4 linked regions of the Homo sapiens genome follow. The protein of the gene in region 1 purifies or fractionates together with the protein of each later gene. This does not show direct contact. Each region holds a gene or a part of one and is shown on either strand. Other genes may lie near its edges.

The links.
Region 2: the proteins of ST7 (region 1) and ANXA8 purify together in Homo sapiens (affinity purification with mass spectrometry; one large-scale study listed by BioGRID and IntAct). This does not show direct contact.
Region 3: the proteins of ST7 (region 1) and XRCC1 purify together in Homo sapiens (affinity purification with mass spectrometry; one large-scale study listed by BioGRID and IntAct). This does not show direct contact.
Region 4: the proteins of ST7 (region 1) and PTH2R purify together in Homo sapiens (co-immunoprecipitation; one large-scale study listed by IntAct). This does not show direct contact.

What each region holds. Positions count from the first base shown.
Region 1 is NC_000007.14:117,131,499-117,135,026, forward strand, and holds part of ST7 (suppressor of tumorigenicity 7 protein), read left to right. Parts: intron 1-386; coding exon 387-462; intron 463-2,625; coding exon 2,626-2,694; intron 2,695-3,528. UniProt on the Homo sapiens protein: May act as a tumor suppressor.
Region 2 is NC_000010.11:47,474,098-47,477,625, forward strand, and holds part of ANXA8 (annexin A8), read right to left. Parts: exon of another isoform or gene 3,146-3,528; intron 3,098-3,145; coding exon 2,984-3,097; exon of another isoform or gene 2,983-2,983; intron 2,226-2,982; coding exon 2,135-2,225; intron 2,007-2,134; coding exon of another isoform or gene 1,969-2,006; exon of another isoform or gene 1,494-1,968; intron 1,476-1,493; coding exon 1,396-1,475; intron 908-1,395; coding exon 848-907; intron 302-847; coding exon 208-301; intron 1-207. UniProt on the Homo sapiens protein: This protein is an anticoagulant protein that acts as an indirect inhibitor of the thromboplastin-specific complex, which is involved in the blood coagulation cascade.
Region 3 is NC_000019.10:43,565,510-43,569,037, forward strand, and holds part of XRCC1 (DNA repair protein XRCC1), read right to left. Parts: intron 1-3,528. UniProt on the Homo sapiens protein: Scaffold protein involved in DNA single-strand break repair by mediating the assembly of DNA break repair protein complexes. Negatively regulates ADP-ribosyltransferase activity of PARP1 during base-excision repair in order to prevent excessive PARP1 activity.
Region 4 is NC_000002.12:208,437,782-208,441,309, reverse strand, and holds part of PTH2R (parathyroid hormone 2 receptor isoform 1 precursor), read right to left. Parts: coding exon 3,429-3,528; intron 1-3,428. UniProt on the Homo sapiens protein: This is a specific receptor for parathyroid hormone. The activity of this receptor is mediated by G proteins which activate adenylyl cyclase. PTH2R may be responsible for PTH effects in a number of physiological systems.

The sequences.
Region 1 (3,528 bases):
GCTTCGGAAAATGACCAATTATGTTGTATCTAAGTGAATGAAAAGGTTGGTAGCAATGTCATCTCAAAATGCATAAAATATATTCTCCAAGAACAAATGACATTAATGTGCAAAAGACACGCAAAATCTCTGTTAGAGTGCCTTTTCTTGATTTCCTTAGCCTGTAGTTTTGTGAGCACAAAAAAGGTTTGCTATCAGCAGTTGAAATACTGTGGAATAGCACATTAATACACTAATATGACTTTGGAGATTTTGGCCAACCCTCTTAGCAATGAAATATGTTCTTGTAATTTAAGCTGACACTCCTAATTTAGCTCTTGTCCTCTACTGAGTCTACCTAATTATATGTATGGATTGACTTGGTGTTTTCTCTTTTTCTTAAATAGTAATGCAGAAAGCCTGGAGAGAGAGAAACCCCCAAGCTAGGATTTCTGCAGCTCATGAAGCCTTGGAGATAAATGAGTAAGTGGGGGAAAATCTTGCTGTTAAAAAGGAAATCTCATCCTTTGCTGAATATATTCAGTTGCCATTGATAGGATACTTAAATTAAACTGCATTTGAACTGGAGGATTATTTGGGGAGTTATTACTCTATTTAAAAAAGTTTTTTTTTTAAATGAAGGACAGCCACCATGTGGAGGTGGTTTTAGTCATTTTATGAATTCAATGGCTTTGCTGTGATCCTAAATTAATTTCTTGAAGGGCTATCCCTAGGATATTGTGAGGATATAAAATAAATACAATTCTTTACATATCTAAAACATTCTGACAGGGAAAATTTTCCAGATGTAGAATGCTCATCTGCACTAGAACATTTTCTAGTAGAACTTCTGCTAGTGGGGAAAACATGATAACAACATAAGGTTTAAAAAAAAAATTTTAGAAAATACTTCAAGATTAAGACAAAGATAAGAGGAAATGCTGTCTTGAGTGTTGTTAAACATTCTGTGGGTTACCAAGGAAGGCTGGGAAATCTCTTCTGGAGATCTCAGAAAATGAGAAAGATTCTTAAAGTTGGAGTCATAAAAACTCAGGGTTGGCAGAGACCTTAAAGGTCACTTAGCTGAACCACCCATCTGGTGCTTGAATCACCTCAACACTATCCTTGCCAAGTGGTCATTGTTAAACTATTTTATGATTTTTCTGAAGAAGGTTACAGAATCTTCTTCAGAGATCTTAGGGAAAAAAAAAAAAGATTGTCGTGAGAGTTGAAAATCCTGCCATTGTAACCAGTTGATCTACGGTTTCTGATTCTGTCATGCAACATATTTATTTTCCAGTTTCTTGTCATCTACAAATTCGATATGCCTGCCTTCTGTGTGTCATCCATATTTCTGAGAAAAATATGAAGGCCAGGAATAGAGCCCTGTGACATGACATAGAAACTACCCTCCAGGTTCATGTCTTCATGAATCACCATCTTTTGTATTGTTCACTCAATTACTAAGCCACCCAGTTACACTGTGACTCAGCTCATATTTCTCCATTTGGATCTTAAGAATGCCAATCGTAGCTGCGGATCTTAAATTTATAGTAAATCTATTACAGTAAATTAAGCTAGCACAATCTGATTTATTTATTCTTAGTGAATATAAGCTGGCTTCTAGTCGTCACTACTTTCTTTTTAAAGTGCTTGGAGACCATTCCTTTAATAATCCATTAGAATATCTTTCCAAATCACTGTGTTCTGTAGTTTGGGAAGTCTGCCTTCTTCCCCTTTTTGAAAATTTATGCTACATTTATCATCTCATCTTCTAGCACCTCTCCATTCTTTGTGATTCCTCAACTATCCACAGAGAGCAATTCCATGGCCTGCCTACAAGGTCTTTCGGTTTCCTGGGATTTGCCCATCCAGTCCAGTAATTCATTTAGAATGGATCAATTATTTGCTATCTTACATCTTTTTACCCATTTTAGAGTTTAATTTCTTCTCCCTTTTTCAGTCTGACAGTCATTCTCCTTGATAGAGAAGCCAGGAACAAAATAGGAGGGAGAGAGTTTTGCTTTTTCTTTATTATCTACTGCTTTTAACAATAAACCTTCCTTGTTTTGATGTTATTATGTTGTTTGTCTTTTTTTTTTACTTATTTGCCTTTGTGACATGGGGACGGTGATAGGGCCTTAAATATAATTTTAAAATAGGGAATAAATGGTTGTCTTTAGTATTTTATTTTGTTTTATTATTATTATTATTATTGTTATTTTTGCAAGCTTCAGCTAATTTGGAATTGTAGCTCTCCTGACATTATTCTTATAAGCTCATTCCACTCTCTTATAGACCATCATTACATGCCCTCTTTCCATCTTTTAAAATATGTCCTTTAAAAATCTGACCTGGGAGAAATCTCTGTGAAGCCGTGTTGGTTACTTAAGTGCCACCCCTCTTTTCTTCCTGAGAGGATCATTTGTGATTGCAGTTACAGTTGAACATTTGGAAGCTGCTCAACCCTCTTAAACCATTTTTCCTTCTGAATCTCATGCCATTGAATCATGCCTCTTTTCTTTGAATTTTTTGAAGTCCACCTTCCCCTCTTTGATTACCCTGAACTCCGAAATGACATAGTGACTCTCTCTGAATGTTCCTATCAATTTTCATTTTACCAACTATTTTTTTCTTCTTGGTCAGAATTAGGTCCAGAGTTGAAGTTCCCCTAATTGCTTCCTCTACCATCTGGGAGATAAAATTGTTACCAAAGTAAGTCAAGAACCTGTTGGGTGCCCTACTTCTAACCAAATGAGACTTCTAGTGGATATCTGGATGGTTGACACCCCCATCACCACACTTTCTTGCTTCTGTATGTGTATTGTGTTGTGACAAGGATGCATCATCTATATCTTCCATCGAGCTGAGCAGTCTGTTCTGTACTCCCCAACCATTAGCACTTCTATTGCTCTCTCCTTTTTCCTTCACTCACAAGCTCTTAGCATGTTTCTATCCCAAACTCATGCGTTTCCACATAGATGTATGTTTCTTGGCCAGTAGTGCTACTCTGCCTCTCCTCCTAAGAATACCATTTGAAATATAAATAAGCAAAGCAAGCAAGCTAGCCCCAACCATTCTTGGGTTCCCAGCCCAACAACTACAATCTTATAGCTAATTCCTCTGATACTGTATCTACCACTCAGTATTACAATCTCAATTTTCACTTCATTACCCTTGCCTCATATTTATATGTTGGCATCTGAAGCCTTAAGCATTTCTTCTGATGCCTGTCCCAGTTATTTTCTCCAGTGAATCACTTGTATAGTTTCAGCATCATTATGGTTCTTTCCAAGTCATGGATGCTGCCATCTGTAGAAATTGGTTTTATAGCTGTTTTTCTGGGCATTTTTCTCCCTACCTCACCACATTGTTTAAAGCCCCATTGATGGTTCCTGCCTGAAATTAGAGAGACTGGCTAAAGACCTTACAGACCCTTCCTAAGGCTAAGATTAACTAGTAGCCCCAGCCCTTACATTAGCTGTGAAGTTCAGCCTCCTTTTCCTAGCTGGCTATTGCAGTTTGTGGACAGTAAAAGTAACATTTGGT
Region 2 (3,528 bases), on another chromosome or scaffold:
GACCTCCTCGTGATGCCCCTCAGTGTCTCGGATCAGAGATCGCACATCAATTTGCCGCCCTGACCTCCCACTGGTGGCTGGGGAAACAGTCCTGGGCTCCCTGGCTCTCTCCCTAACTCTAGACTTGACAAGGCAGAAGCACGAGGGAGAGGCTCATGGCCAGGACACCCCCTGTGGCCCCGGCCCCAGCCCCTCCCTCCCTGGTACCTCTCAGCAGGTGAGTGGCACTGCGCGTGCACAGGATGGTGATGAATTTCATCTCATCAGTCCCACGAATCTTCTCGCCTGCCGCATACAGATCCTAGCATTGGGACACCCACAATAAGCCAGTGAGGGAGACCAGGGAGGTGAGGGACTGAGCCCCAGAGTCCCAGAGCTGTGGCCATGGCCTGGCCCTGTCCACTCTGCCAGGCCAGCATGCTCCCCTGCTTGGTCGTCTCTGACAGGGAGCTCCCCTTTCTCTAGCAGCTCTGGCTTAGAATATTTTCTCTATCCTGGGCCACAAGCTGCTCTAGGAACTGCCTGGTCCCCAGACTTCCCTCTGCCAGCAGGCAGACCTACAGAGACCCGGACACCTGTGTCCAGCACTGGGGCCTAGCGCCCCCGGGTTCATGGGCTGTTCCTGCCAGGACAGAGCTTTAGTGCTCCCCCACCCCCAAGTCACACTCCTTCCTCCCGAGTCTCCCAACACCCTCACTCTCCTCCCCAGACACCACAGGACAAAGGCCTATAGGGAGCTGAGCTGGGTGGGTCCCAGCCCAGTGTCAGAGAAAGCCCCCGTGGGCAGAGGAGCCGGAGTCCAGATGGCAGGGGGTGGGGCCACATGGCCGGCTGGGCGCAGCCTCACCTGTGCGTCTTGGAGGGCCAGTCCTGGGTCCACAAAGCTGCTCACATCATCCCTGCTGCCCTAGGAACAGAGGAGGTGGCTCTGTAAGGCAGGCCAGCTGACCAGAGCATTAAGGGCACAGGGGGGATCCTGGGCTTGGAGGGCAGGCATGGCTCTGCTGCTCTTTGGCTGTGGAAACTTCGACAAGCCAGTTATTCTCTTCAGCCCTTGGTTTCCTCATTTGTACAATGGGGGTGGTAAGGACTGCCTCATAAGGCTTGGCGGATTCAGTGAGCTAAGGTAAGCAAAGTGCCTGGCATGAGGCCTGCACGAAGGACCTGCTCTCCTCCCGCTTCCAGGATGCTCTCACATGGCTGAGTAAGGACAGGTGTGGGGGCTCTGCAGTTGGGACCCTCTAACCATGCTGAGACACACCCAATGAGCCCTGGCTGCTGGGCTATCCCATGCCCCTACCCTGACTCTTGTGGCGCTATTCAAGGGCTGCTCCCTGGGGTGGAGCTGTTGGGACTCCCAAACCAAGGCACTCCCAAGAGCCTAGGCTGTGACACCTGCAGGAGGCACACCAGGATCCTCTCCAGGTAGCCACTTGTGTCTGCTTGGATGTCCTCCTCCAGGCTGGACCCATAGTCTGCAGGGAAACAGGACCATGAGGCACAAGCAGAGGCCCACAGCCTACCCGGGGCCTGCTTTCCTCCTTCCAGCCCTGTTCCCCATACTTCTCCTTATTAAAGCCTTCTAGGAAAGAAAGTCCTTGGCACAGGGCATGGATGCAATGCCCGGGTGTCCAAGTGGCTGTCGCCTGGGTGGTGCTTCACAACTAGAAGCGACATGCGTACCCAACCAAGCTCAAAGCACAAGATGGACCAGGTCAGAGAGCCAGGCTAGGGGCTGCCAACCAAGCTCCATTTCATCTCAAGGCTTGGCAAAGCCAAAGCCTCCAGGAAAACTCCCCACTAGGTACATGATGTGGAGGACTGACTGGCCTCTGCTAGCCTGGGGTCCACACCCCCTACTACCACAGTCCTCAAGGGCAGAGATTTTAGTTGGTCACAGGCCTCTCTCCCCTGTAAGAGGAGCTGGTGAGCTTACAGATCAAGTCTGAATCATGTTCAGTGTCACCATCAGGCACAGATCTTGGCATACGGTAGGTGCTCAGCACCTGTGGGTAAAAAAGTCCCCAAAGGGTCCTTTCTAGTGTGGCCCAGGTTAATTCTTGATCCTTGTTCCCTGCCAGGCTGCCAAAGCTTGTGGCCACTCCTGAGCCCCTCCATCTGTGCCACCCCTTACCTTCCTCATACGCCTTCATTATCTCCCGCAGCTGGTTCTTGGTCCGAGAGGCCAGGATCTCAATGATGACACCCTCCTTGGTTCCTAAGCCCTGTGGACAGAAACCTCTGCCTGCTGGAGTGCTCTGCCATGACCTTCTGCTCTGTCCACACCTTCTTTTCTCAAGATGCCTGAGCCTCAGGAAGGACCTCACTGCCCTGCCCCACTTGAAGTGGGAGGATGTGATGAGAAAATCACATGCTTCAGTGATGAACATTGAGGGCAAGTGCTGTGACGGGGAAGCCCTGTCTCAGCTCTCCCTCCTTAGCTGGGTGGTCTCAGACAGGCTGCTCCATGTCCTGGAGCCTAAGCATCCCGATCCATAAACAGGAATAAGAAGCCTCCCCTGCGCCAAAGATAGATTAGGGAGCGTGGGTGTAAAATGCCTGGCAGTGCCCATGCAGCAAGTGTCTTTCCAAACAAAATGACTATAGTTACTGGGTCCCCATCCTTATTAATCTGCAAAAGCAAAGAGTAGTGAGAGGTAAAGGGAAACCCAAGGGGCTGTGCCTGGGACTGTAGAGGTGGGTTTCCAATACCACTGTACACCTGAGCTCGTGAGGTTCTGAGAAGTACTGATTTTGGCTTCATCACGGCCACTCAACGTGTCAATCAGGCACCAGTGACTCCAGGTGTTGGGTGCAGTCTGAGCAGCAGGCTGCCTGCTCACTGGGCCCAGTTATGGCCCATATGGCCATTCCAAACAGTGGCTCAAGGGGAGCTCTGGGCTGTAGGTTCCCGGTCCCCGCATTGCCCCTACCCAGTCATGTGAGCACCCCTGCCACTCCCCTGCCCTGTCTGCCTGGTTACCTTCATGGCGTCATGCAGCTCCTTGGCTTCGTATCTGTATGGCGGGTACATAAGGGCCACAATGAGCCTCTCAAACTTGCCACTGAGCTCAGACTTCAAGGTCTCAGTGAGGTCCTAATGCGGGAACAGGGAAAGGTGATATTTGTCATAAGCCAGGCCCACCTGAGTGCAGGCAGCGGAGTGGTGGCTGGGTCCAGGGGCTTGGGCTGGATTCTGCGTGGGCCTTGCCACGTGCTGGCTGGGTTTCTTGGGCCAGCTCCTTAGCTTCTCTTAGCATCAGTATCTTTACCGGTTACACGGAGAGAAACGTGCTCCTGCTTCATCCCGTTGCTTAGGGGGTTGTGTGTGACTCAATTCAGCATTCAGTGCAGTGCTGGGCACATCATAAGCTCTCAGTAAAATGAAATTGGTATTGCTAGCTAGACTGCAAGCTCTGAGTATGGCATCACCATAAAATACCTGTCACTTGGCACTCAATGAATGAATGCATGCCTGAATTAAAGACTTCGTCTCACATGTGCCTCCTTCTAAGGTCACATGTTGCT
Region 3 (3,528 bases), on another chromosome or scaffold:
TCCCACAATATTCAGCATAGCTCCTAAATGTGGTAGGATGGAGATGCTTGTATTTTAAATGAACAATTCCTACTGCATATATAACTATTTCTACTTTAAACAGGCACTCCCTGACATTTCTTCTTTGTATATAAAAAAAGTCCTGGCTAGGAGCACTGGCTCACGCCTGTAATCCCAGCACCGTGGGAGGTGGAGGCGGGAGAATCACTTGAGGCCAGGAGTTCGAGACCAGCCTGGCCAACATAGCAAAACCCTGTCTCTACCAAAAATAAAAAAAGTTAGCTGGGTGTGGTGACACGCACCTCAATAATCCCAGCTACTCAGGAGGCTAAGGCACAAGAATTACTTGAACCTGGGAGGTGGAGGTTGCAGTGAGTTGAGACGAGCCACTACACCCCAGCCTGGGTGATAAAGTGAGACTCTGTCTCAAGAGAGAAAACAACAGGCTGGGCACAGTGGCTCACACCTGTAATCTCAGCACTTTGGGAGGCCAAGGCAGGCAGATCACTTGAGGCCAGGAGTTCAAGACCAGCATGACCAATATGGTGAAACCCTGTCTCTACTAAAAATATAAAAATTAGCCAGACTTGGTGGCGTGCACCTGTAATCCCAGCTACACAGGAGGCTGAGGCCAGAGAATCACTTGAACCTGGGAGGCAGAAGTTGCAGCGAACCGAAATCATGCCACTGCACTCCAGCCTGGGTGACAGAGTGAGACTCCATCTAAAAAAAAAAAAAAGTGGCCAGGCACGGTGGCTCAGGCCTGTAATCCTAGCACTTCGGGAGGCAGAGGTTGGCAGATCACAAGGTCAGGAGAGTTCAAGACCAGGCTGGCCAAGAGGGTGAAACCCCGTCTCTAGTAAAAATACAAAAATTAACCAGGCATGGTGGCAGGCGCCTGTAATCCCAGCTACTCGGGAGGCTGAGGCAGAGAATTGCTTGAACCCAGGAGGCGGAGGTTGCAGTGAGCCAAGATCATGCCACTGCATTCCAGCCTGGGTGGCAGAGCAAGACTCTGTCTCAAAAAAAAAAAAAAAAAAAGTAAATAAATACTTTTTAAGAATCTGATAAAAATGTTTATACATGGAGGCTGGGGTGGTGGCTCACGCCTGTAATCCCAACACTTTGGGAGGCCAAGGCAGGTGGATTTCTTGAGCCCAGGAGTTCAAGACCAACCTGGGCAACACGGCGAAACCCCGTCTCTACTAAAAACAGAAAAATTAGTTGGGCATGGTGGCATGCGCCTGTAGTCCCAGCTACTCAGGAGACTGAGGCACGAGAATCACTTGAACCTGGGAAGCAGAGGTTGCAGTGAGCCGAGATTGCACCACTGCATTCCAGCCTGGGCAACAGAGCAAGACTCAATCTCAAAAAAAAAAAAAAAAAAAGGTTTATATATACATGGTAACAACCCAATAAATGTCCATCAGTTGATGAATAGATAAACATTGTACAGTATATTTATGGAATATCATCCAGTTATTTAAAAAACTGAAGTTGTGATATATGCTACAACATGGATGAACCTCAGAAACATTATGCAAAGTGTAACAAGGTTAAGTGTAAAAGACCACGTATACATTTATAAGTCCAGAATACGCAAATCCAGAGAAGCAGAAAGTAGATCAGTGGTTGCCAAGGGCAACATTGGGGAGAGAATAAGAAGTGACTGTTTAATGGTTATGTGGTTTCTTTTTGGAGTGATGAAAATATTCTGAATTAGAGAATGGAGATGGTTGAAGAACATTGTCAATATGCTAAAAAAAAAAAAAAAACCCTGAAATGTGCACTTTATTTATTTATTTATTTATGTTTTTTGTTGAGACGGAGTCTCACTCTGTTGCCCAGGCTGGAGTGCAGTGGTGCAATCTCAGCTCACTGCAAACTCTGCCTTCCAGTTCAAGTGATTCTCTTGCCTCAGCCTCCCGAATAGCTGGGACTACAGGCACGCACCACCACCCCCGGCTAATTTTTGTATTTTCAGTAGAGATGGGGTTTCACCATGTTGGCCAGCCTAGTCTCGAATCCCTGACCTCAAGCAATCCACCCGCCTTGGCCTCCCAAAGTGCTGGGATTACAGGTGTGAGCTACCGCATCTGGCTGAAATGTGCACTTTAAATGGTTAAAACAGTAAATTTTATGTGAATTTTTCTCAAAATAAGAGATGAGTGCTCAGTATGTATCAGCTGTGAGGATAAGAGCACAAGATGACTATCACCGATGGCCTGGGTTCGTGTGCATGCAGCTTTCTCAGGGAGACACAGTTCTGATATGAACTGTTCCTGAAACAAACATGGCACAGGAAGGCAAAGTTCCTGAGATATATTGCTAAAAAACTGTTTCACATCCATGAAATGCAATCTTTTCTTTTTTTTTTTTTTTTGAGACAGAGTCTTGCTCTGTCACCCAGGCTAGAGTACAGTGGCACGATCTCGGCTCTCTGCAACCTCCGCCTCCCGGGTTCAAACAATTCTCCTGCCTCAGCCTCCCAGGTAGCTGGGATTACAGGTGCCCACCACTGCACCTGGCTAATTTTTATATTTTTAGTAGAGACAGGGTTCCACCATCTTGGCCAGGCTGGTCTTGAACACCTGACCTCGTGATCCACCTGCCTCAGCCTCCCAAAGTGCTGGGATTACAGGCGTGAGCCACCGCGCCCGGCCATGAAATGCAATTGTATGCATCATTTAAAAGAATAAGGTAGGCTGCGCACGGCGTGGCTGACGCCTGTAATCCCAACACTTTGGGAGGCCAAGGCAGGAGGATCACTTGAGGTCAGGAATTCAAGACCAGCCTGGCTAACATGGGGAAACCCCATCTCTACCAAAAATACAAAAATTAGCCAAGCCTGGTGGCATGTGCCCGTAATCCCAGCTACTAGGGAGATTGAGGCAGGAGAATCACTTGAAGCTGGGAGGGGGAGGTTGCAGTGAGCCACGATCGCACTACTACACTCCAGCCTGAGTGACAGAGCGAGATTCTGTCTCAAAGTAAGTAAGTAAGTAAGTAAGTAAATAAATAAATAAATAAATAAGGTAGAACTTCATGCAGTGTGCATCTCCAAAATACACTGTTACTTGAAAAAAAACACACAAGGGAACAGTGTATATACTATGAATTTTTTAAAAAGGGATGGAGGCGGTAGGTATATATGCTTGTATGTGTACAGAATGACCCAGGAAGACCACCCAAAAAAACTGCTAATGGTGGTTGCATCAGGAGAGAAGAATGAGGGAGCAGGAGTTGGGGAGGGAGCAGGAGTTGGGGAGGGAGCAGGGAGGGATGGAAAGGGTGAGGGGAGATTTTCTTTTTAGTGTATACCCTTTTGCACCTTTTGAATTTTGCACTATATGCATATAATACCCATTCAGAAAGCAAATATAATAAAACCCCAATGGCCAGGTCTTTGTGGCTCTGTCTGTAATCCCTGTAATCCCAGCTACTCAGGAAGCTGCCTCCAAAAAGCTTAAAAAAAAAAAAAAAAATTAGTTGGGTGTGGTGGTGTGCACCTATAGTCCTAGCTACTCA
Region 4 (3,528 bases), on another chromosome or scaffold:
AGCTCCTGCACTTCAGACTCTTCCAGACTTCGCCCTATATGTCTCTTCACCTGGCTGTTTATTTGTATCCTTTAAAATATCCTTTATAATAATATATAGGAAACGTAAGTGTTTCTCTGAGTTATGTGAGCTGTTCTAGCAATTAATCAAGCCTAAAGAGGGGTTCGTGGGAACCCCAACTTGAAGGTGGTTACTCAGAAGTTCAGGGGCCTGGTCTTGCAATTGGCTGCTGCCTTGTGCTCACTGGGAACTATGCATCTCTAGGGGATTTGTCTCAGCTTCCCTGCCCTTCTCCTGGCCTGTGGGCTGCATCAGTCATGCAGTTAGTGAGGGCCCCCTGTGCCTCAAGGGATGCCTCTCAGCTCCTCTGTCCTGATCCATGCCTTCAGCCAACTGCTGCCTTTCACTCTGTGAGAGCCCTGTGCACATCTCAAGGAATTTCTCTGAGCCCTCTGCCTGCCCCAGCCTTTGGCATACTTCCCCCATGCACTCGGTGAAGACCTCACGGCAAAGAATTGCCTGGTGGATTATAGCTTACTAAGACTAGGGCTTACTCCTTGGGATTCTAACTCTTTATGCTAGCCCTTGTCTGCTATTGGTATAAAAGCTTGTCTCTTTTCTCTTTGTCCCCTTCAATAGCCTGTTTTCTCCCCTTCTACTGTGGTCCTAGGGATACACGCAGCCATGGGTCTCTTCTCTCATAGGAAGGGCTTGCCCATTTCTGGAATTTAGTTCATTTAGATTTCTTGGCATCCTCAACTCATGTTTACAAATTATTAATTTTGCATCTAAGCCAACTTATTGTTGCGACTGCCTACAATCTGACTGGAAGCAGGAAGACTTTGCCTCTTGTTTCTTTTAAAAAAAATATTAATTACTTATTATTTTCTCTTAATAAAATAGTAAAACTTTTCATAGAAAATATTTGAATAATGTGTAAAACATAAAAGAGAGGAGAAAAAAAATCTTACAAATTCTAACCAATCAGAAAGAAACACTGTTAGTACTTCATGTACTTCACATATTTCTTGAAGTTGTTATTGTTATGACTTTAAGAGATGGCATCTCCCTATGTTGCCCAGGCTGATCTTGAACTCCCACCCCAGCCTCCCAAGTAGCTGCAACTACAGACACAGGCCACTATGCCCAGCTAGTACTTCATCTATTTCATTTCATTCTATTTCTGTGAAGCATTGCCTATTATTTTAAGCATCTGCATTCTCAATTTATATACAAGTTTATTCCTGAATTTTTTGTGTGACAAAATAATTGCCCAAGGCTGCAAACTCTTTATAAAATTTATATGCATATATTTGCGCTTATTTAACCAGTTCTTCATTAGAAATTTAAACTCGTTGAAACATTCATTATAATTATTTGTTCAATGAACATTTTTTCCATTCAGTTCCCCCATTCTAAATCCTTATGCTTGATTTTAGAAGTAAATTTATAAGATCAAAAAATATTATTCCTTTGAAGTTTTTAAATATATACTGCTAAATGGCTTTCCAAAAGTACATCTAGCCTTTGGATAGGAGATGTATTATATGGTAGTTTCTACAGTATGCTACTGTTTTAAATATCACACTCTAAAAAATTTAATAATCTTGTGACATCATTAGAATTCCTTCCCTTTTTTTAACTAAAATAATTACCTCATTTTGCCAAGCCAATTATATAAAAATTTAGAGAAAAAAATAGTGCTCAAAAATATCTTATTTTCCTGATAAAAATGTGGCATTTATTCTAAATTTACACTTTTTTAGTTTTTTGCCTTTCCTTCCTTATAAAAAAATTTTATTAACTATTAATAATTTATATCTCACAAATAAGTAATATCATTTTGCCCTACTGTGTGTCAAACCTTCAGGAGATATCTAGTTTTCTTATTAGACATATTTTGTTTTCTTGGGTTTTTCCAAATTATTACTTAAAGGTTGCAAACAATAGAAAACATTTTTTGTGTTTTTAATTAAGGAGATTAAATTATACTAACACAATTCTTCAAATTTTCTATTAACTTTTAAATCATTTTACATAAACTAGTATATATATTGAGTACATCAACCATCTTTAGTTATTTTTATTCTTAAAATACACAGTAATCACAGAAAATGGTTATAAGATTAGAGTTCAATATAAATAAAACCATGATTTAATTTAATGGCCATTAACAGCTCTGAAAGGTTTGCATTTTTCATCATGTAATGCAAAAATGAAGATAATCACAGAGTACACTAAGTATCAGTGAATGTTTGTTTCTATCAATGAGACTGAAATTCTTTTGAAGCATTTTAGCTTAACTGAATGTTGATGTTACTTATGTTAGTTCCATTGTAGAGTACCTAACAATCTCCTCATATTGACTTATTTTATCTAAGAAGCTTTTCAACAATTAAACAGATAACTGAAAGTCTTTCTGCCAATTCCTAAAGAACTCATTAAGGAAGAAAGTTAAGACAGGAAGTTCTATTAATGCAAAATCAAAGAAACCTTCAACTCACTACTTCTCTTGCTGCTGTTCTCCCCCCACCTCCCCAAAACATCACCAGACATAAAGAAATATGTCAAAAATTCGAAGAGTTTATGTGTGATGGACTATTCTCAGGGTTTTCATAAAGCTAATTTATCACATTAACTCTTAGCATCATATGCATATATCATCATGCATTTTTACTCACGAGGTCTAAGTGATATAAATTTAAACATGACTTTTAAACCAACTTTTATAACTTAAAAGCAACTCTCTAGAATATCCCAAAGTTTATATATGATTTCTATATTGGAAACAGCACTGATGTGAAATTGGGACATAAGGGCTCTACATTAAACCCTCTTGCCACTGAGCTATGTCACTTTGACCAACACCTAATCTCGGGTTCTCAGTTGACTCACATCTCTGAAATTAATATATTGTGCTGGAAGATTTATATGATGCCCCTTGCTCCCCTTTAATCCTAAAACTCTAATCTTTTATACGCTAATGAGATCATCTATTGGTAAATCTTATGAGGTGGAAAATACACCTCTAAAATGCAAAGGTCCTTCTGGAATATACAGATGAGATGTAGCCATTCATAGGTAACTAAGAAGAAATCATGAATCATGTTACTAACCACCTATTGGGATTTTTATTCATAATATAGCATAATATAATGCAAGTAAACAATGTAATCTAACATAATAAACATAACACACACACAGGTATAAGTATGGATGTATGTATCTCAGCCAGGTAGCTCTAGGCTATAGAAAATACCAGAATGATTGATATGCATCTGAAAAGATTGCAACATTGCTTTTATCTTTTATGATCCTTGTGTCGTGGAATAAGAGGGTTTTTATACATAATGGCTGGCAATTGAGAATTGCATTAAAATATTATTCTGCTTTCCCTTAGGAATTCACAAATAGAGAAATTCCATTACCTTTCCTATGCTGATATCTGGCTGCAGAAAGCGAAGGCAGTCTGAATAATTGGCCCATGTTTTATTTAAGCTGTGCATAAAATCCCATGTTCCATTGGGG